Homo sapiens: one gene and its partners. The protein of the gene in region 1 purifies or fractionates together with the protein of each later gene. This does not show direct contact. Each region holds a gene or a part of one and is shown in the gene's direction. Other genes may lie near its edges.

Region 1 (5,684 bases):
TTGAAACTGGTTTTCCATGGGGGAAAGGAAGACTGTTGTCCTTCATGGGATAAACCTTATTTGCATGTCTATAGACAATAATTACTTAACATTGCCATCAGTTGTTAAAATTTACAGAGTTGTAAAATAGCTCAAATGACCTCTAATTTTTCTTTAATCCAGTTTTTTCCCTACAACACCACCTTCTCTCAGTGCATTTAATCAGAAACTTTCACTGCATCTCAAGGATTAGATGTCAGCTGACTTTCCTTTTTTGTTTTGTTTTGTTTGGGGTTTTTGAAATTTTTTTTTTTTTTTTTTTTTTTTGAGACGGAGTCTCGCTCTTGTTGCCCAGGCTGGAGTGCAGTGGCTGGGATCTCGGCTCACCGCAGCCTTGACTTTCCCTGTTCAAGCAATCTTCCCACTTCAGTCTCCCAACTACCTGGCACTATAGGCACACACCACCATGCCTAGCTAATTTTTGTATTTTTTATAGAGGTGAGGTCTCGCTATTTTGCCCAGGCTGGGCTCAGTTGACTTTCTAAGCCGTTTTATGTTTTTCTTAGTTTTATGGTTTTCTTAGGCATATTCCTCCTGCTCTCCCTAAGACTAGATTGATCTGAACATAGACATAACAGAATAAACAGAATTTGGAAGGAAATGATTAATTTACCAGCAAACACCTCATGCAAATTAAAAGGAATGGTACCATATATGATAAAATAAAATCTGAAGCATCTTAAAGATCACTTGGGCTGGGTGCGGTGGCTCACACCTGTAATCCCAGCACTTTGGGAGGCCAAGGCAGGCGGATTTCTTGAGGCCAGGAGTTCAAGAGTAGCCTGGCCAACATGGCAAAGCCCCATCTTTACTAAAAATAAAATTTTAAAAATATCACTTGTTTCTGCTCTTACAAAAACAAACAACAGAACTATTCTGGCCCACATACTGAATATCTGGGTCTAGTTTACGTCTTTGGAAGTTGTGTGGCATGCTTTATTTCAGCAAAGATTTTTTTTTGGGGGGGGTGTGGGGTTTGACATAAAGGATTATAGATGGGTGATAAGGCTACTTTGTAGTTTTTTGAGAGTCTAGGTCACTTAGCACAAAATTCTATAGAAGCTAAATTAGGTGACTTTAGTAAGAATAGTCAGGGCAAGGCCAGGCACGGCGGCTCACACCTGTAATCCCAGCACTTTGAGTGGCTGAGGCGGGTGGAGCACTTGAGGTCAGGAGTTCAAAACCAGCCTGACCAACAAGGCAAAACCCTGTCTCTACTAAAAATACAAAAATTAGCCAGGCCTGGTGGCGGGTGCCTGTGGTCTCAGCTACTCAGGAGACTGAGGTGGGAGAATCGCTTGAACCCAGGAGGCAGTGGTTGCGGTGAGTGGGGAGATTGTGCCACTACACTCCAGACTCCAGCCTGGGTGACAGAGGGAGACTCTGTCTCAAAAAAAAAAAAAAAAAAAAAAAGAATAGTCAGGGAAAGGTGTTATTCATGTATTTATCTCTCTAATCACTTGTATTTCAGAAAGATCTGGATCTGGGTGTCTGCTTTTTTTTTTTTTTTTTTTTGGATGGGATTTCAAATGTCATCGGCTGCAGAAGAGGGTGGGCCCCAGTACATAAAGCCACCAGAAGTGGATGGGCTTCTGCGTATAAAGCTATTGCTCTTGGCAGCTCTGTCTGAAGGAGGAGGACAAGAGACTCCAGGGTATGGAAAGGGATTTTCATAGTGGCGGGCAGCAGGAAGGAGCAGAAGTTGGACCTGAAGGCAGGAAGCCAGCTTGGTTCTAGAAAGAAAGAAACTGGGGGCACAGAAAAAAACAGGTAACTCAAGGGATCCTCCTGCCTCAGCTTCTGAGATTCAGATTCTATCTGTATTAACTGAAAAATGTTATATGTGGCCAGACTTACAAGGTTTATTGCCCTGTCCTAGCTTTGCGTTACGGGCACTGTTTTCATCAGAAATGTTCTGGGACAGACTCAGTTTCAAAGATCCTGTTCAGTTTTCCTATTATACGGAGGCCTTGCCCTGATGTGGACTTTAAATTTAAAATAGTCATTGCACCCCTAGAAAAGTCCAGAGCTACAGAGAGTTGTACACAGTAAAATGCTTTGGAGGAGGGAGAATAGGATGCATTTCTTTAAGTTGAGGTATAATCTACATACAAACAAAGATTTTAAGTGTTTATAATTGTATACACCCACATAACTATATCCCATCAAGATATAGGATATTTCATCAACCCAGAAAATTGCCTCCTGCCCTTTTACCATCAATTCTTACCCACCCCCACCTCCAAGATGACCGTAGTTGTGATTTCTATCAGCATGAAGTAGTTTCGGTTGTTTTGGACCTGGCGTAAATGAAATCTTCATGCTATGTCCTTTTTGTATCTGGATTCTTGTACACAGGATAATGTTTGAGACTGCTTTATTTTCTTCCGTGTATCAGTGATTTGTTTTGTTGTTTTTTTTTCAAATCATCTTTGTTGAAGTACATCTTTTTTTTCTTAATCTGTTTTCTGTTGCTTATAACAATACCTGAACGTGGGAAATTTAGAAAGAAAAGAGCTTTATTTCTTACAGTTATGGAGGCTGGGAAGTCCAAGGTTTAGGGGGCACTTCTTTCTAATATGGACTCTAAAGAATCCCAAGGTGGCGCAGGTATCACATGGTCAGAGGGCTAAGGCTGCAAGCTCAGGGCTTTCTCTTAGAAAACCACCAGTTCCCCTCCCATGATGACCCATTAATACATTAACCTTTGACTCCATTAATTCATGAATGAGCTAATTCATTCATGAGCACAGAGCCCTTATGATCTAATCACTCTTGAAAAGCCCCACCCCCTCTTTTTTTTTTTTTTTTTTTTTTACAACAGGGTCTCACTGTCCAGCCCAACCTGGAATGCAATGGTGCAATCATGGCTCACTGCAGCCTTGATATCCTGGGCTCAAGGGATTTTCCTGCCTCAGCTTCTCAGTAGCTAGGACTACAGGCATATACCACCATGCCCAGTCATTTACTTAATTTTTTTGTAGAACCGTGTTCTTGCTATCTTGACCAGTCTGATCTTGAACTCCCGGCCTCAAGCAATCCTGCCTCAGCCTCTCAAAGTGCTGGGATTATAGGTGTGAGCCACTGCACCCAGCCTGGGATTAAGATTTAACATGAGTTTTGAAGAGGACAGATATTCAAACCCTAGCAGTGTGGTTTACAAATAAGAAAATGTATATTATAAGTGTATAGTATGAATGCATGAGTTTGGACAAATGTTTGTAATCATCACCACAATCAAGGTGTAGAGTGTTTTGGTCACCCCAGGAAGTTCCCCTGCGCTCTATTGCAGTCACTCTCTTCCCTACCTCCCACCCCAGGCAACCACCAATCCGATTTCCATCACTACAGATAAGTTTTGCTTGTTTTAGGACTTTATATGTTAATGAAATCATACATTTTTTTGTGTCTGGATTCCTTGGCACAGCAAATTTTTCTTTTTATGTTCATTCACGTATTTGCAGTAGTTCACTCCTTTTTATTGCTAATTAGTATTGGTTGCCAAAATTTATCATTATTTATTCATTCCCCATTTAATGGACATTTAGTTGCTTCTCATTTTTTCACAAATATAAATATATGAACATTCTTGGATAGATTGCCAAATGATTTTCCAAAGGGTTGGTGCCATTTTACATTCGAACAAGCAATGTATATGGATTCACTTGCTGTAAATCTTTGCCAACATTTGGTATGCTGGCCTCTGTAGCCATTCTAGTGCTAGTTTTCTCTCCTAGTCTTAACTTAGGATTTCTGATTACTTATGTTGAGTATCTTTGCATGTGCTCTTGGCCAACCACATCTTTTGCAAAGTATTTAAATCTTTTGTTCATCTATTCTTATTGAGTTACAGGGGTTCTTTATTTTGGAGACAATTCTTTTATCAGATATTGCTTTTAAGACTATTTTCTCTTCAGTCTGTGGCTTCCCTTTCTAATTTCTTTGCCTTTGTGTGTGTGTGTCTGTGTGTGGTATTTTTTTGTACAGACAAAAAAAGGTGTTGTCCAGGCTGGTCTTGAACTCCCAGGCTCAAGTGACCCTCCTGCTTCAGCTTCCCAAAGTGCTGGGATTACAGTCGTGAGCCACTGCACCTGGTCCCTTGCCAGTTTCTTAACAGTACCTCTTGAGAAGCAGATGTGGCTTTTTTTTTTTTTTTTTTTTTTTTTTTGGAGACAGAGTTTCATTCTGTCGCCCAGGCTGGAGTGCAATAGCGGGATCTCGGCTCACTACAACCTCCACCTCCTGGGTTCAAGCGATTCTTCTACCTCAGCCTCCCGAGTAGCTGGGATTACAGGCTTGTGCCACCACGCCTGGGTAATTTTTGTATTTTTAGTAGAGACGGGGTTTCGCCATGTTGGCCAGGATGGTCTCAAACTCCTGACCTCAAGTAATCCACCTACCTCGGCCTCCCAAAATGCTGGGACTATAGGCATGAGCCACGGTGCCCAGCCTCCTTTCCATTCAGTTTCTTAACAGTACCTCTTGATAAGCAGATGTGGCTTTTTGATGAAATGCAATTTATCTTTTTTTTCTTTTAAGATTCTTTTTATTATTTCAAATATGTGCCAGTCCCTAGGTAACGAAGATCTGTTTCCTTCTGGATGGCATGCTGTGGTGTTAGTATTTGTTATGTCAAATTAGTTTTTGTGTATGGAGTGAGGCAGTGATCAGTAAGATGCATTTCAAGTAAGATGAAGTTACAGCCAGAATACAATAACTCCCTAGAAGTTGGTGGAACCACCTTCCAATTTTTATTTTATTTTATTATTTTATTTTATTTTATTTTATTTTATTTTTTTGAGACAGAGTCTCGCTCTGTCACCCAGGCCACAATGCAGTGGCACTATCTTGGCTTACTGCAGCCTCCACCTCCTGGGTTCAAGAGATTCTTGTGCCTCAGCCTCCCAAGTAGCTGGGAGTATAGGAACCCACCACCATGCCCAGCTAATTCTTTTGTATTTGTATTAGAGACGGGGTTTCACCATTTTGGCCAGGCTGGTCTCGAACTCCTGACCTGAGGTGATCTGCCTGTCTCAGCCTCCCAAAATGCTGGGATTAAAGGCGGGAGCCACCGCGCCTGGCCACCACCCACTAATTCTGACTGCAGCAGAACGACGGTGGTTAAGCAAGACCCTGGAATCCTTTCCCCTGCCTTCCTTCAGGACCATCTTGCCCTGACTTAAGCTGACTGCAGCCCTTTGCTTTATTTGAATGTTTTACTGAAAGTTATATTCTCTTCTATTTTAGTAATAAGCAGATTAAAAGGCATAATTAGTTTGTCTGCTCTGATATGTCAGCTAAAAGCAAATATTTTTGTTTTTAGTAATCAGACTTTGAGTTTGCTCTGTCTAGGGAAGGGCTTGACTCTAGCAGTGTTGAAAGCCTGGGAGGTGGGCTTTTTGGAAACTGTAACTGATATAACATAAAATGTATTTGGTCTTTAAGCTAAAACTTTTGGGAATTCCTGAGTAACAGGTGTCTTTTTATTCATAATGACCCTCTTTGATAACGTGTTTATGCTAATAAGATAGCTTGGAGTGGGGTCCATAGATAGTCTAAAAACTGGGGGGGAAGGAGCTGAAGATCATGCTCTGTAAGATTCGTTTTTCTTTTTTTTAATATTTAAAGAGATGGGGTCTCTATGT
Region 2 (5,145 bases), on another chromosome or scaffold:
AACATATGTGGCTTAGGCCATATTTCTGTTCTACAGCATTGTTTTAGATTATGGTAACAATATATAATGCCTGGCATAGGCAGATTCAAGAAAGTTTTTGATTCTAAGGACTTTATGACTTTACCCAGGCTTTTTTTCTGTGAGTTTTCTATTTTCAGAGTGTTGGTCTGCATTATATCTAAGAGACTAGAAGCTGCCTGATAGACTAACTGCATCTGGTCCCTTGGAAATAATTTATCAAGTCAACATCGACTGCTGTGGGGTTCTAGATTTAGCCATGCTGTTTATTCTTCATTTTGTTTCTGCAGTTGTCTGAGTGCTGATCTTTCTTTCTTTCTTTTTTTTTTTTTTTTGGAGACAGTTTCGCTCTTTCGCCCAGGCGGAGTGCAGTTGCGCGATCTCAGCTCACTGCAAGTTCGCCTCCTGGGTTCCCACCATTCTCCTGCCTCAGCCTCCGGAGTAGCTGGGACTACAGGCGCCCACCACCACGCCCAGCTAATTTTTTGTATTTTTAGTAGAGATGGGGTTTCTCCGTGTTACCAGGATGGTCTCGATCTCCTGACCTCATGATCCGCCCGCCTCGGCCTCCGGAAGTGCTGGGATTACAGGCGTCAGCCACCATGCCCGGCCCGAGTGCTGATCATTCTAAGCAAGATAATATTCATAATTAGCTTAGTTTTTACTAGAAATGTGCATTTTTATTGTTTAATTTTAATTTTTTTATTCTCAAAAGGAAGTAAACGTGTATTTTTTAAAAAATATCAAAATGAAACTCAAGATTTGAGTTTATAAACATAGTTGAAAGATTTTATTCTCAGATATTCTTTATTTTGCTTTTTTTCCTGGAGTTTCTCTGTTATAAAATTTAGTATAAGAAAAACATTCTAGGCCAGGTGTGGTGGCTCAAACCTGTAACCTCGGCACTTTGGGAGACACACAGGAGGATTGCTTTGGGCCAGGAGTTTAAGGCCAGATTGGGCAACATAGTGAGACCCTGTGTCTACAAAAATTAAAAATTAGCTGGGCATGGCGGTGCCTGCCTTTAGTCCCAGCTACTTGGGAGACTGAGGCAGGAGTATTGCTTGAACACAGGAGTTCAAGGCGGCAGTGAGCTATGATTGTGCCAGTACATTCCAGCCTGGATGACAGAGTAAGACCCTGTCTCTAAAAAATAAAAATTAAAAAAAAGAAAGAAACAAAAACATTCTTGATTGGATATTTATATGGGAAATACTATGAGACTTATTTTTAAGCCAATACTTCAAGTTAGAAATTATATATATAATTTTTTTTTTGAGATAAGGCCTCACTTTGTCTCCCAGGCTGTACTGCAGTGATGTGATCACAGCTCACTGCAACCCCAAACTCCTGGGCTCAAATGATCCTCCTGCCTCAGCCTCCTGAGTAGCTAAGACTTCAGGCATTTGCCACCACACCCAGCTAATTAAAAAAAAAAAAAAATTGTAGAGGTGGGGGTCTCACTATGTTTCCCAGGCTGGTCTCAGACTCCTGGACTCAAGCGATCCTCCTGTCTCAGCCTCCCAAAGTGCTGAGATTACAGGTGTGAGCCACTGTGCCCAGACGATGTTTGTATTTAATTTTTTTGCATATATGGTTATAATGCATTCAGTAAACATTCACCTGTATTGTGAATGACATGCATTGAATTTCTGTTACTTCTCAGCACTTGGGAATGGCTCTGAGGGAACTGTTTGACTCTTGGGTGTGCTTAGGAGAAAACTAGAACACAAATTTTTTTGCTGACTGGCTCACTTAAAATTGTACAATTTTTAATTTTCGTATTTTCTTATCCTATACATGGTATTGGCAAATTCTTTTGATTTTTTTTTTTTTTTAAGACAGTCTCGCTTTGTCACCCAGGCTAGAGTGCAGTGGCGCGATCTCCGCTCACTGCAACCTCCGCCCCCCACCCCCCCCAGCCCCGCCCAGATTCAGGTGATTCTCCTGCCTCAGCCTCCTGAGTAGCTGGGATTACAGGCACGTCCCACCATGCCCAACGGATTTTTTCGTATTGTTAGTAGAGACAGGGTTTCGCCATGTTGGCCAGGCCAGTCTCGAACCCTGGACCTCAGATGATCAATCCACTTCGGCCTCCCAGAGTGCTGGGATTACAGGTGTGACCCATCCCACCAGGCCTTCCTTTGAAATTTTTAGCATGTAGTTTATCCTCCTTAACATTAAGTTATGGCTTATGCAGATAATCATACTTGTTTCTCTTTAAAACTATTAGATTGTCCAAAATTTAGATGAAATACCAAATTAAGGATATTAATTAGTTAAGCTGTGTCTGTCTCCACATTTTAATTGGAAGTGAAGTTCCCCCTCAGGAAAGGAGGAAGAATAGGATGATATGCATAGGTATCAATCATTCATTCATTCACGTACATTTTGGAAAAGTTAGGAACAGAAACAGATGTTGTATATATGTAGCTTATTCTTACTGTGTGAAGCCGGTAAAGCTGGTACAGGTTATTTTTATTCTTTCTTTAAGCATTATGTTATAGAAAATTTCAATCACCTGCAAAAGTAGAGATAATGGTATAATGAGCCCCTTTATGGTATAAAGTTGGGCAAATGGTATAATTTATCCTTTACCCAACTTTTACAGTTATCGGCACATGACCAATCTTGTTTTATCTATTCCCCCCACCCACTATCCTCACTCCCTTTAGTGATTTTGAAGCAAATCCCAGACATTATATAATTTTACCCATAAATATTTCTGTATTTATCTCCAAAATCGCTTCTTCCTTTCCTTCCATTCTCAAATTCTTATTTTTACAAGTGTAGAAATTTTATTTTATGTCAGTTACATCAGTGATTATTAATATAAGTTAATGTAAAACTCTCCCCTTAACTCTTGATTTAATTCAGTTATATTAATAATAAAAGGTACATGCATAATATGTATTGCTAATAAATTTACTAAGAATCTGTCAAATTCTAAGCAGGAGATGTAGTTCTTTAAAAGTCAACTGCTCTTTTTCTATGGATACCTCTGTGGGGAGAAGAAATCAAAGAAAGACACATGAATCAAAAAATGCTTTGCTTCAAAACATCATGTTGTGCACCATAAATATACAGAATTTTTGTCAATTTTTTAAAAAATGCATTTTAAAAAGTGTTTTACTTATAACATGAATACATCTAAGTGTTTGGGGAGCAAATCGTATCTCCCTTTTTGTTGTTGCTAAAAATGATATATCCAGAACCATTTCTCTCGTCTTTCTCTGCCACCACCCTCAACTAAACTACTGCTACCTCTTACCTAGATTATTGCAAAAGCTTCCTAGTTCATCTCATTGTTTCTCCCCTTCTGTCCTTGCAGTCTGTTTTCAATATACCCACCAGAGTGATCTTATTAAACAGGTTAGATCATATAATTCCTCTGCCTAAGATTTTCCAAGTGCTTGCTCTTTTGTTCAGAGTAAAAGCCAAAGTCTCTGCTTGATCTGTATGCCAACCCCTACACTTCTTCCAATCCATTTCTCATCCTCCATCACTATTCTCTCACTCTTTATTCACACTAGCCTTATTGCAATTCAGAAGTCCCAGGCATACTTCAGTTTTAGGAGCTTTGTCCTGACTGTTACTACCTCTACCTGGAATGTTCTTCCTGCAGACATCTGCTGGCTCCTTCGCTCCTTTCAAGTCTTTATTCAAATATTGCGTTATTCATGAGTGAAGCTTTTTCCAGCCATTCAGTATAATGTTCTGACCCTCCCCATTACTTCCCTGTTGCCTTTCCTTGCTTGATTTCTCAGCACTTAATGCTATTTAACCTACTCCAAAACTTGCTAGTCTCATTTATCTCAGGAAGGAAGGGATTTTGTCTGCTTTAGTTTTGTTCTCCATTTAACAAAAGCCATTTCTCAACTCTGCATCCCCTTTTAGGTGACACCATTTCTTTCTCATGTATTGATGAATTGAGTCATTTTCTGTAAGTGAATTAGTTTTCTGTGATAGCATATTTGTTGCTAGGCTTTGGAACTACCAAAATGAAGTAATCCCTGCCCCAGCCAATCTTATGGGGGGTTCTTTTTTTCTAATGTATATTCGGATTGTTGCCAATTTTTTCCTGTTACAAAAAGTGTTACAATGACTATTATTGTTTATTTATTTATTTATTTTGAAGTTAAATACCCAGAAGTGGAATTGCTGGGTCATGGGTCACGTACATTATGACTGTTACTAAATATTGCCAAAGTATTTTCTAAAACAGAGTTCTCCTTTCCCTACATCTTGCTCAACACTTTGTACTGTCAGACTTGAAAAAACGTACCAGTCTGATGGGTGTGAAATAGTGTCTCATTTTGTTCTAATTTGCATTTTCTTGATTGCTGGTGAGATGCAGGTATCCTCAATTTCATTCACATGAATAGATTGCCCGTTTTCCATTGGGTAGTTTGGCCTTTCCTAATTCTTGCTATAGCCTGGATGCCAATTCTTTGTTGTATATGTTGTAAATATCTTCTAGTCTGTTCCGTGTATTTAATTTAGTTTATGGTATCTTTTTTTATACAGAAAGTTTAAATTTATTTGTAGGTAAATTTATTAGACATATGATTTCTGCTTTTTATTACATATTTGACAATTCCTTTGTTATACTAGGATCATAAAGCTGTTTTTCCAGCGTTTTCTTCAAATTGTTTTAAAATTAGTTTTTTAACATTTAGATCTTTAAAGATACCTGGAATCAATTTTTGTATATGGAATAAGGAAGGGAATTTGTTTTCTCCCGTATAGAAAGTTGTGTCAATGCTGTTTATTGAATGAGGCATCCTTCCTCCACGAGTCTGTGTTGTTTGCCTTCTCTGTCATAAGTGACACATTTAGGACACGTACCAGCATTCTCTTTCACATACTCTGTCATATACCAGCATTCTCTTTCATATACCTTGGTCTCATTCTAGATTCTGTATTCCATTTCATTCATTTCTTGGTGCACAAATAATGCTCTGTCTTAATTATAGTATTTTAATGATAAGTCTTGGTATTTGGCAGGCAGAACCCCCACCTTCTTTTTTTTTCTTTTTACAATTATACTGAACTTTATTCTTCCATATGCCACTTACAGTGTTTGTCTAGCTCCATGGAAAATAGTTCTAGATTTTGATTAGCTTT
Region 3 (5,145 bases), on another chromosome or scaffold:
GTGGAACTCTGAACCTTTCCATGCAATTGTCATGAATATGAATGAAGTAAGACAACCAAATCCTGAAGTATCCTACCCTTCTTATATAATTATTAAAAATGAATTGTAAAAAATTAATTGCCATTGACCTTTTACCTACTTTTTCTGTATGAAGATAATTTGAATTAATTTTATGCTCACCATTTTGGAAACACCAGGAAGATCTCTGCAGAATATTAAGTAAGTTTCATTCCATATGTCCAAATAAAAAGCTACTCCAAGGAAAATACTCAGCTTCGTGGAGACATAGTGGTAGCTTTTTGCGTATCACCAAAGCTAAGCATTTGAATCAGAGTTAAAGAGGCGTCATCTTGTCTCCTTCCACATATCCATGGTTATTATCTGTGTTTTCATTCCTTTCTTCCAATTCAGTAAAGAAGAAAAAAAAAATTCTCTCCTACTTCTTCATGCCAGAAAAACAGCTCTTGTTTTATTACTTCTAATGGGAATGTATTTTCCTTGGTGATTGGAAGCAACTCTAGTCCTCTTGCCTACATCCAGGGTTAGTTTCTGTTTTTGTCTGATAGCTATTTGTTTACAGCAGCAGTTAGCAATTTGCATGGACAGTGTGTCAATGTCACTGCCCTGAATGAAACCCAAATGCCTCTTGGAAGAAAGATGACAGATTCAGCCCAGGGACTTGCAAAACTTTAAAAGTGATTCCTTATCAAACACGTGAAAAACAACTCTTCCCTCTCTATAACTTGAGGAAAAAAATGAGAAACTATCTTACAACAGATGGCGATTCCTTGTTAGTAGAACAGGCCTGGGCTGATTCAGCTCCACTCCTTTATGTTCTTTTTGCAAAACCCACAAAGAACACATTTGGGGCCACTTTTCAGAGTTGGCAGCAGTCTCTGCTTTTTAAGGAAATCATGTGGATGAAAAAAAAAAAAAAAGCCACAGTTGATGAAGGGCTTGTAATCCCCAGAGTAAAGAAACGGGATGCATAGGCCTTAAATTCTAGGTCATCAGGTTTGGTAGCTTGATTAAATTTGGTTGAAACAAACAAATTTGGGGCTGGGCGCAGTGGCTCACGCCTGTAACTCCAGCACTTTGGGACGCTGGGGTGGGTGGATCACGAGGTCAGGAGTTCAAGACAAGTCTGGTCAAGATGGTGAAACCCTGTCTTTCCTAAAAAGACAAAAAAAAAAAAAAATTAGCCGGATGTGGTGACAGGTACTTGTAATCCCAGCTACTCAGGAGGCTGAGGCAGAGAATTGCTTGAACCTGGGAGTCGGAGGTTGCTGTGAACTGAGATCACACCACTGCACTGCAGCCTGGGCGACAGAGTGAGACTCTGTCTCAAAAAAAAAAAAAAATTGGGGAAAGTTTATATTTTCTTGCTGATTAGACTTCTTCTTAAAAAAAAAAAAAAAAAAAAAAAACAGAAAAGGAGGAGAGGAAGATGAAAAAGAGGAGGGAGAGGAGGAAGTAGAAACTATAAAAATACCTTTTGGGGTGATGGAATGATAAAGTGATCTCTAACTTTCAAGTTACCCTATATCTAAAGAATTCAATCTTTAATGTTAAGTCCAGTACCTTTTTCCACCACTTATATGTAAAGTACTATAGCTGCTTTGATGTATTTAGAAGTTATTTAGAGAGGCTTGGAACCAGTGTGTGAGTGTGTGTGAGTATGTGAGTGTGTGATAGAGAGAGAGAGAGTGTGTGTGTGCCTTCTTAATAAGCTTGGCTTTTTACAGATAGAACAGATGCCTCAGGACATCATGAAACTTTCTCACTGAAGATGTTGAAGCAGAATCTGGTGGGGTATTGTGGAGTAGACTTAAACACTAGATTAATAACCAAATCAGTTAGCTTGTATGATTTTTTTCTTCACCTAAGAGTCTATGCTTCATGAATCAGAACTAAGCCCCCTTCACCTGTTCTTATAATAACCTTAATTTGGGGTATTTTCAGACATTTAGGGTAATACTTACTACTTAGTTCTTCTTATATGCAAGAAAACACTGGCCACCTTTACTAATGTTCTATTTTATTTCTTTAGGTGTCTGAACACACACAATTAAGTTGGATCCTTTCCTGCATGGTCAGACTACCTCGATTACAACATTTACATCAGTGGAAGGTAAATGCCAGTAATCTGATTAATAAACAGACAAGAAGCTATTTTTCCCTTCCTGTTAGGCTCTGGGAATCCTGAGTTTACTCTCCTCCCTGGTCTGCCACTCACTAATGGTTGGAACATCATCTTTAACCTCCCTGCTTCAGGGTATTAAAAGGAAAATAAAAGGATTTTCCAAGATTCCTCCTGACTTAAAAATTAGGTTCATTGTTTTTATCTGTGTACAGTTGAATCAGAGTTACCTTTGGATAGACTTGGTAATGACTTTGAACAACCACATTATAGTTAATAAACAATCACAGATTGTAGATTACTAGACTCTGAGGTTGCCTCCCATTTCCACTGGAATTAACTGGCAGTAAGGAAAGAATGTTTTCATTGTGGAGAGAAGAGACAACATATTTTATTTAACATTTAAACAAGTTGAGTCCAGGCAACAGTTCAAACTCACAGAATAATTAGGGCTATACTTTTTGTAAGAAGTTCAACCAAGAAAGATAAATTGGATAATTCATAGTACTTTACTTCCATTTATTTTTGCAGTCGGATAACCCCAGGGTAGGTAGCCCCCAACTACGTCAACACTAATTTCAATTTCAAGCTTCTTTTGAGGTATTTTCAGGGCCATTGGTTTCCTCAAAAGCTGGTCTTCAGAAGCCTTCACACATGCTACAGAAAGAAATAGATAAAGCTTTAAAGTGACAGTGCCTAAATGATATGGTCTGAATGTGTTCCCTCAGAATTCATATGTTGAAACCTAACTCCCAAGATGATGGTATTAGGAGGTAGGGCCTTTGTGAGGTGATTAGATCTTGAGGGTGGGACCCTCATGAGTGAGATTAGTGCTCTTGTTAAAGAGGCCCTAGAGACACCGCTTGCTCCTGACAGCATCTGTGGACAGAGCTAGAAGTCACTATCCATGAACAAGGTTCCTCACCAGACACTGACTTTGCCTTAATCTTGGACTTCCCAGCCTCCAGAACTATGAGACATAAATTTCTGTTGTTTATAAGCCACCTAGCTGGGTATTTTGTTATAGCAGCCTGAGTGGACTAAGACACTTAATACATAAGATGGTACTAGTAATGCTGCAGATTCATTACTTGCCACAAATTAGAAACAAAGTTTCATAATGTTATCTGCCATATTTTGGTTTTAGGCAATACTTTCCCATTGTACCATAGTATTCTACCATTAAGTGTAATGTTGAAATCCTTTTTATAGGAACTGAATACTAATCTAATAGGAACTATTCCCACTTTAAAACAGCATCTAAAGATCTCCTGCTAGTATATTACTAGTGCATGTACTGATATTCTGGAAAAGCCTTTCCATTAGTATATAATTGCTTGTTTGTAGGAAATACATGAATTTCAAATCCCAGTCTTATCCTCAGATATGTTACTGTCTTCTGTGGTGATTCCTTCATTAATACTAATTAAATACTAGTGATATCTTCTGTGAGTCTTATGTCATAATAGGTGCTAGAGATATAGCAGTCAATAAGAAGTAACCCCCTTCGTGAGACTTATAGTCTGTTTGGGAAAAGACAATTAAACAAGTAATAAGAAAGTGTAAGAAGTGCTCTGAGTACAGGATTCCAGTGCTATAGGAGGATCTGATAAAGGCATCTAGCCTGGTTTCCATTGGGACAGCAAAAGGTGGAATAGTGGCACAGAAGGGTGGGGTGAGGGTTGCTGAGGTCAGGGTTATTTAGAGGATTAATGAGTAACATATATGTAAAACATCTGGAGCACATAATAGGCACTCAATAAATATTAATGCTCTCCACATTTTCCCTCTCCCTTGTAATTTCAAGGTCCATTATGCTAATACGAAAAGGCTATAAATTGAATGTGATGGCAACTTTTAAAAATTGGGTTCTTCTTCAATTTGCACGTTTCCAAATTAAACTTTCATTATCTTTACCTGGTGATAATTGTGAACTAGCCTTTATCATGAACTTTGTAATTAGGGGATGTAGTGAAGAAATTGTATGTTCAAACATTGAAATTTCCTTTGAATGGCCTAGAGCATTGGTTGCTATAAGCCAGAAACCACTTGAAGTATACTCAGAAAAGTTAAGTTTGTAACTAAATTATGAAACACCAAAATTAAGATGGCTAAGGAGAGAAGCTGTTGTATTTTCAGACTGAGCCTTAAAAAATATGTCTGCACCTTGGTAGGGGTATCCCAAGTTTGTAAGCTCATGAGCTTGGTCCCTGGAATAAAACAAGTTTATAAATTCAGTTGCCCAGTTCATTTGGAAATAATCAGACTTGAGGGAAATGATTCAGATTAACTCAATGAGTAAGATTTGTCTACACACCAAAGTATCCATTTATTTTACAAGAGATGCTATACCTTAGGCCTTGAAACTGCACAGAATATTGCCATCTAATAAGTAGCTCTACTCAGAGAATCAAACGACATGTCAGCAATGTGCAGCCACAGCAAGGGAGTTAGCATCATTAGGATCATGTTTAGTGAGTACACAGTAGTAGTTTATAATCAGCATCTATTGCCCCCCCCAGTTATTAAATGTTTCTAACATCATCTCAGGTGTTTCCATCAACTTCTCCATTAAGGAACTGTTTTGGTCTATACAACCTGTACTGCTCATTGGGTCACTTGACCCTCACTGCTTCAGCATGCTTAATCACCTAAGAATCAAGACAGGTCATTAGGATTGGTTAGATGAATATTTCTCTCACTTACTTTTATTTTTTAAATGCCATGACTTTTTTGTTTTTTGTTATTTAAATGTGATTTTAAGGGAACATTCCAGTTTTCTCAGTGGCATGCTGTGAGACTTTTTGGAAAGTCTCCATGTATAAACAATAGGGCTTTTGATATTAACTCATGTTAATTTGTAGAGATTTAATTTCATGACGGTTTGTGGCCTTGTCTGTGAAATCTGGAATTTATCCGATTTGGAACCAATAAATGCCTGTATCCTTACTTTAATAAAATAAATAAAAAATAGTAGCAGTGCAGGATCCCTTAAAGGGGCAGTG
Region 4 (5,145 bases), on another chromosome or scaffold:
GTTTCCAGCCTATCTCACCACCATGTTGTATAGTAATAGGATGTTAAGAACATATATTCTTTATCTGAAAAAGTCAAATTTTGTCGTAAATGTGCAATTTCAGAGGGTACCTGTTAGGGTATTTCAGAGCTTAATGGGTTTAGAGGAACAAGGAGAATGGGAAGAAGGCAGAGGTTTTTGTTTAAGAATACATAATAATTGGCCTTTGATCCTCATCACCTGTTTCCTCAATTATCTTTAAACTTGGGCTAATATGCACTTCAGTTATTCTAGAAATGACAACCTATTATCTACTTAGGTATTGGTTCTTTGACCAATACCAGTAGATTTCAAAAACATTCTTGGGATTGTACTGCTCTGTGATGCTCATTCCATTCCTTGCTCCTCGATATGCGGCACTGAATTTTTCATAGTCTTATTTACTCCAAGATTATCCTATGTTTTGATATTTGTGATAGAAAAGAATGAAAATAGCTTTTCTTATAACAAATGAAAGTGAAAGTAGACAGTAACTTTTTGTTGAATGTTTTTACTTGATAATTTCAGTGGTAGTTCTGTTTCTATATATATAAATTTTATATACATATATAAAATTTTATGTGTGTATACATTAAATTGTCATAAAATTATGATGGTTGGGAATCGCCATGCTACCATACAGAAATAAACAAAAACACAAAAGAAGGACTATTTCCTGTTTCTTAACATAGCTTATTTCTTATTTTGATAAAGTTTACAAAATAATTTGGCTCATTTAGAATTGATTTTTCTACTACTAAATCCATTCATTTCCTGAAAAACTGTGAGGCAAGATGAACAATATTAAAATTACAAAGAAAATGAATGTGGAATATATTTTAAAATTCATAGAAATATCTACTCTAAATTGCTTTTGGAAATAGAAAATATATTTTTCATTATGATCATAATTTTAGAAATGTGAGTGTAACTGATGATCTTTTTCTGTGTTAGGTAACGCGGATTTGATTAATAGAGTCTTGCTTGATGCAGGCTTTACAAATGAACTTGTCCAAAATTACTGGAGTAAGCAGAAAAATATGTAAGTATTTGTTCTTATTAATAAAAATATGTATTCTGCATTTCAATTTAGTTTCTCCTGTGGAAATTGGGTATGAATCTCATAAATTTACAGTTCATTAATAATGTTTAATATTTCTCAAGAAAATCACTATACAGTTGTTGACAACTTGCATTTTCAGTTGTGGGTGTTTTTCAGTACTAATGTCTGCTATTACTCAACTTTTCATGCACATACACTTCAGGGTGAATACACCAAATTAAATGGGCATGATTGTGTGTTTCTGTTTGTGCTAAAGTAGGATTTCTAGTCAGTGTTTATTTGGGTTTCTAATAGCATTACCATACATCCAGTTGAGAAAATCTGAGTATGATTCTTATTTAAAATCTCTTCTCCACCCCATTTTCAGTCACTAAATGCTAAATATTTCTCCTAGCAATGTTTTCTTCTCTACCTCATAATGAAGGCCCTAAGATCCCATTTCTAAGAAATCACAGCAACTGATTTTTCTGCCTTTAGTGTTCTCCATTCCTCCACATGCAGCTTCTAGACAATTCTCCATACAACTCATATTGGCCAGAATCTAACTCCTAAAATGCAGTTCTAAGTTCAAGATACAGGTGAAGCTCTCTAAGATGGAATTCAAAATCATTCATTAGCTGACCATTGAGGAACTTGCACTTGAAACTTTACTTCTTACTGTTTCTCTCCTTTTGTCTTACGTTTTTTTTCTATACCAAACACCAGCCATCTCTGGTAGCTTTCCCTTATGTATACATTCCTCTCTACAAGTGATACCTTCCTGCTTTCTGTGTCATTGCTGTCAATTCATACTCCATGTTCAAAATGCACCTCAGTCATTATTTCCTATGAGATGTCTTCCTTAAACATCCTTCAAGTACAAATTTAATAGATATTTAAATTATTAAAACATAGTTGTGTATCTATTGATATATTTCCTTTACTTCCTAAACTTACTTCTCTTTGTATCACCAACACCTAACTTTGTTTTTTAGAATATGTTCAATAGAACATTTCCTTGTTTTGTCTTCTGTTTCAGCAAGGGAGTGAAAGCACGATTTGTTGTGACTGATGGTGGGATTACCAGAGTTTATCCCAAAGAGTAAGTTCAAATAACATCTGTAAAAACAAGTACATTACAAAAGACTGCGCCAAGGATTTGTACATTACTGCTTAAGGAAGCCATTCTTCAAATAAACTGATTGCCATTAGATTACATTGGAGCCATTGTTTACAGTATTTACATTATTAAAAGATTTTATTTCTCTGAAAAATGACATTATAAAATTCTTCAATGATGTTTTTGCTTGCCAAATATGTTTATTACAACATTTAAGAGACGTTTAAAGAGATTTTTCTCTTTGTAGATACAAGCTAAACCAGTGAAATGAACACAATGATTATAACCAATCAGCAATATTTATGTAGCACTTTATTATCTTTCACTCTTCTTTGATGCATCTTATCTCTATTATCTTCGTAACAGTCCATGAAGTAGGCTGAGTAGGCACCAATGCTTACTAACATTAATTGACCTATTAACTTACTTGTCCTGTTACCTGACTAGTAAACAACGGAGTAAAACTAGGAGTTAGCTTTTTCTGATTCTTAATTTAGTGCTATGCTGATGCATTGCTCAGTAATGAGTATCAGTTATGCTATCAATTACCACTAACTTCTTTAGACATACCTGAGATGTAGGCGTATCTGTAAAGCTCAGCAAGTCCACATAGGATAAAGTAGGTTATCAGGTAGATTAAAGAATACAAATGATGAGCCATTTCCTCCTTAGGGCTGGAGAAAATTGGCAAGAAAACCCAGAGACATATGAGGACAGCTTCTATAAAAGGAGCCTAGATAATGATAACTATGTTTTCACTGCTCCCTACTTTAACAGTAAGTATTGCTTTGGAATTCAGCTTTTCTCAATTTTTTAAATAATAAATTACTGCTACTATCTGCTCTCCCCCCAAATCACTACATTTTATGTTAACTACTCAGAATAGTCATCATTAAAAATAGAGTATTTGCAAGGCATTAGGAAAATAGAAAAGAAACATCATTTAGTTGAAGAAGCAAAATGCATACACAGCAAACAGTCTTCCAGTAATTTAGAGATAGCATATCTGTTAGGCATGCATAAGAAATAGAAACACATGTAGATAATCCCTCATATTACAACTGAAAATGTATTGAAAAACATTTAAGGAATTAAATAGAGTAATTCCATTGATTAATTACATTTTATCAGTATTATAAAATATAATTATACAATTAATAATAGCTTATCTTTTAAAATATTTTATTGACTTATTTCCCAAAAACCTTGTAATTTAATCCCTGAACATCTTTGCACATAGGTAGTATTTACCTTCATTTTCCTAAATGGGGAAACAAGTTCAGAGAATTTCAAAGTTTTGCCCAGTGACATACGTCTTATAAAAGACAAAGTCAGTTTTATGCATCCAGGATCAATCTTTCCACTTCACTTCAGCAGAACTACTTAATATTTTAACAAATGTTGTGAAGTAGAGATTTGGCATGTATTCATTATGTTGTGAAAGCAGATGCAACCAAGCTAATTAATGTCCCCGAATCAATTAATACAAACCAATTCATGGATATACCAGTTAGCCTAGTGTATACAACGGAAGAAGAGAGGAAGGAGAGCACAAACATTTTATAGTTTGTAGATGCTAGAATTTTTAAGCAAAATACTATCCATTTGTATCTAATGACGGAAAATCAATATTATTATTCAATATATCTTGATAGGTGTTTTATTTATTTATTTTTTTTTTAGAAAGTGGACCTGGTGCCTATGAATCGGGCATTATGGTAAGCAAAGCTGTAGAAATATATATTCAAGGGAAACTTCTTAAACCTGCAGGTAAGGATAAATATTAAATACAAAAACACAATCAAAATTAAATGTTACTTGGCATTTATATTATAAACTGGCAATGTTTATCAAGAAGGTCATCAAAAGGTGTCAAACAAAATAAAGGCATGCACACTTAAAAAAATTAAATAAAATATGACTAGTTACCTCTGAAGTTGGGATAAAATCAAATTGATACTACATAGATTTGAGGAATTTTCAAAACAGTGTGTATGTTTATACTCTGACACAAATTGATGGAATCAATTTAGTATAATAATCAAAATTTTTAATGTTGGATTAGCAACCCACCTCCAGAAGTCTCTCTTAATACTTTAAAATACGTACAAAGTTATATGGCCAAGGAGTTACATATTTGTACAAAAAAGTTAAGTTTCCAGCCCTGAGGGAAAAGATAAATATGGCATATTTATACTATATTCTAGTAGGCGTCTGTTAAAGTGAATTAGGTAGGGCTCAGTTAAAAACTTGCTATAAAATATATAGAAAAATGACTTTTTGGAAAAATAGGCAAGTAAACAAACATAGTAAAAGTGAGCATTAATGAGGATCGGAAGTGGGCTAGAGTGAGTGAATACAATAAAGTAAAAGCTATTAGTTTTTTTGATTGTATGATTCAGTGTTTGAAGTTTTAAAGGAGAGTATTTTGAGCCTTCCTGCTCCTGAGGACAGCTTTACCCCATCAGCGGATCTATTACATGAATTCACTCCATCACTTACTCACTAACTCACTTACCTATTCCTTCATTCACTCAATTGCTCAATTACTTACTAAATCAGTTATTCTCTCAGCCATTCATTTATTCACCCACTCTCCTACTAACCCACCTACTCATCCATTCATCTGTTCACTCTTTCAGCAAAGATTTATTAAGCACCTACTGCAAGCACTGGTGGGGTTAGGGAAACATCTTAAAATATACCGTTTGAATGACCTCAAGTTTATGAGGCTCTCCTGACACTACTGTTTTTTATTTAGCTTATTGTATTAGTTAATTGGTCAGGTTGTGGCTAATGAATACACTCTTTTGTGAATATGTTACAATTTATGTAATAGTTTAAGAGCTATTAGCATTATTTCTTAATGAACACAAAACTAAAACTTCTGTAATAAACTATAGTCTGATACTTGCTATCAAAATAACTGTCATATTGCAAAGGTTGTATTACATCTAATTATACC

What was found.
Region 2: the proteins of SLC19A3 (region 1) and ATP11B purify together in Homo sapiens (affinity purification with mass spectrometry; one large-scale study listed by BioGRID and IntAct). This does not show direct contact.
Region 3: the proteins of SLC19A3 (region 1) and WARS2 fractionate together in Homo sapiens (co-fractionation; one large-scale study listed by BioGRID). This does not show direct contact.
Region 4: the proteins of SLC19A3 (region 1) and CACNA2D1 purify together in Homo sapiens (affinity purification with mass spectrometry; one large-scale study listed by BioGRID and IntAct). This does not show direct contact.

The regions. Positions count from the first base shown.
Region 1 is NC_000002.12:227,710,574-227,716,257, reverse strand, and holds part of SLC19A3 (thiamine transporter 2), read left to right. Parts: intron 1-1,633; exon of another isoform or gene 1,634-1,809; intron 1,810-5,684. UniProt on the Homo sapiens protein: Mediates high affinity thiamine uptake, probably via a proton anti-port mechanism. Has no folate transport activity. Mediates H(+)-dependent pyridoxine transport.
Region 2 is NC_000003.12:182,798,945-182,804,089, forward strand, and holds part of ATP11B (phospholipid-transporting ATPase IF), read left to right. Parts: intron 1-5,145. UniProt on the Homo sapiens protein: Catalytic component of a P4-ATPase flippase complex which catalyzes the hydrolysis of ATP coupled to the transport of aminophospholipids, phosphatidylserines (PS) and phosphatidylethanolamines (PE), from the outer to the inner leaflet of intracellular membranes.
Region 3 is NC_000001.11:119,042,568-119,047,712, reverse strand, and holds part of WARS2 (tryptophan--tRNA ligase, mitochondrial isoform 1 precursor), read left to right. Parts: intron 1-180; exon of another isoform or gene 181-308; intron 309-2,050; coding exon 2,051-2,131; intron 2,132-5,145. UniProt on the Homo sapiens protein: Catalyzes the attachment of tryptophan to tRNA(Trp) in a two-step reaction: tryptophan is first activated by ATP to form Trp-AMP and then transferred to the acceptor end of tRNA(Trp).
Region 4 is NC_000007.14:81,967,692-81,972,836, reverse strand, and holds part of CACNA2D1 (voltage-dependent calcium channel subunit alpha-2/delta-1 isoform 1 preproprotein), read left to right. Parts: intron 1-972; coding exon 973-1,060; intron 1,061-2,099; coding exon 2,100-2,162; intron 2,163-2,852; coding exon 2,853-2,956; intron 2,957-3,863; coding exon 3,864-3,950; intron 3,951-5,145. UniProt on the Homo sapiens protein: The alpha-2/delta subunit of voltage-dependent calcium channels regulates calcium current density and activation/inactivation kinetics of the calcium channel. Plays an important role in excitation-contraction coupling.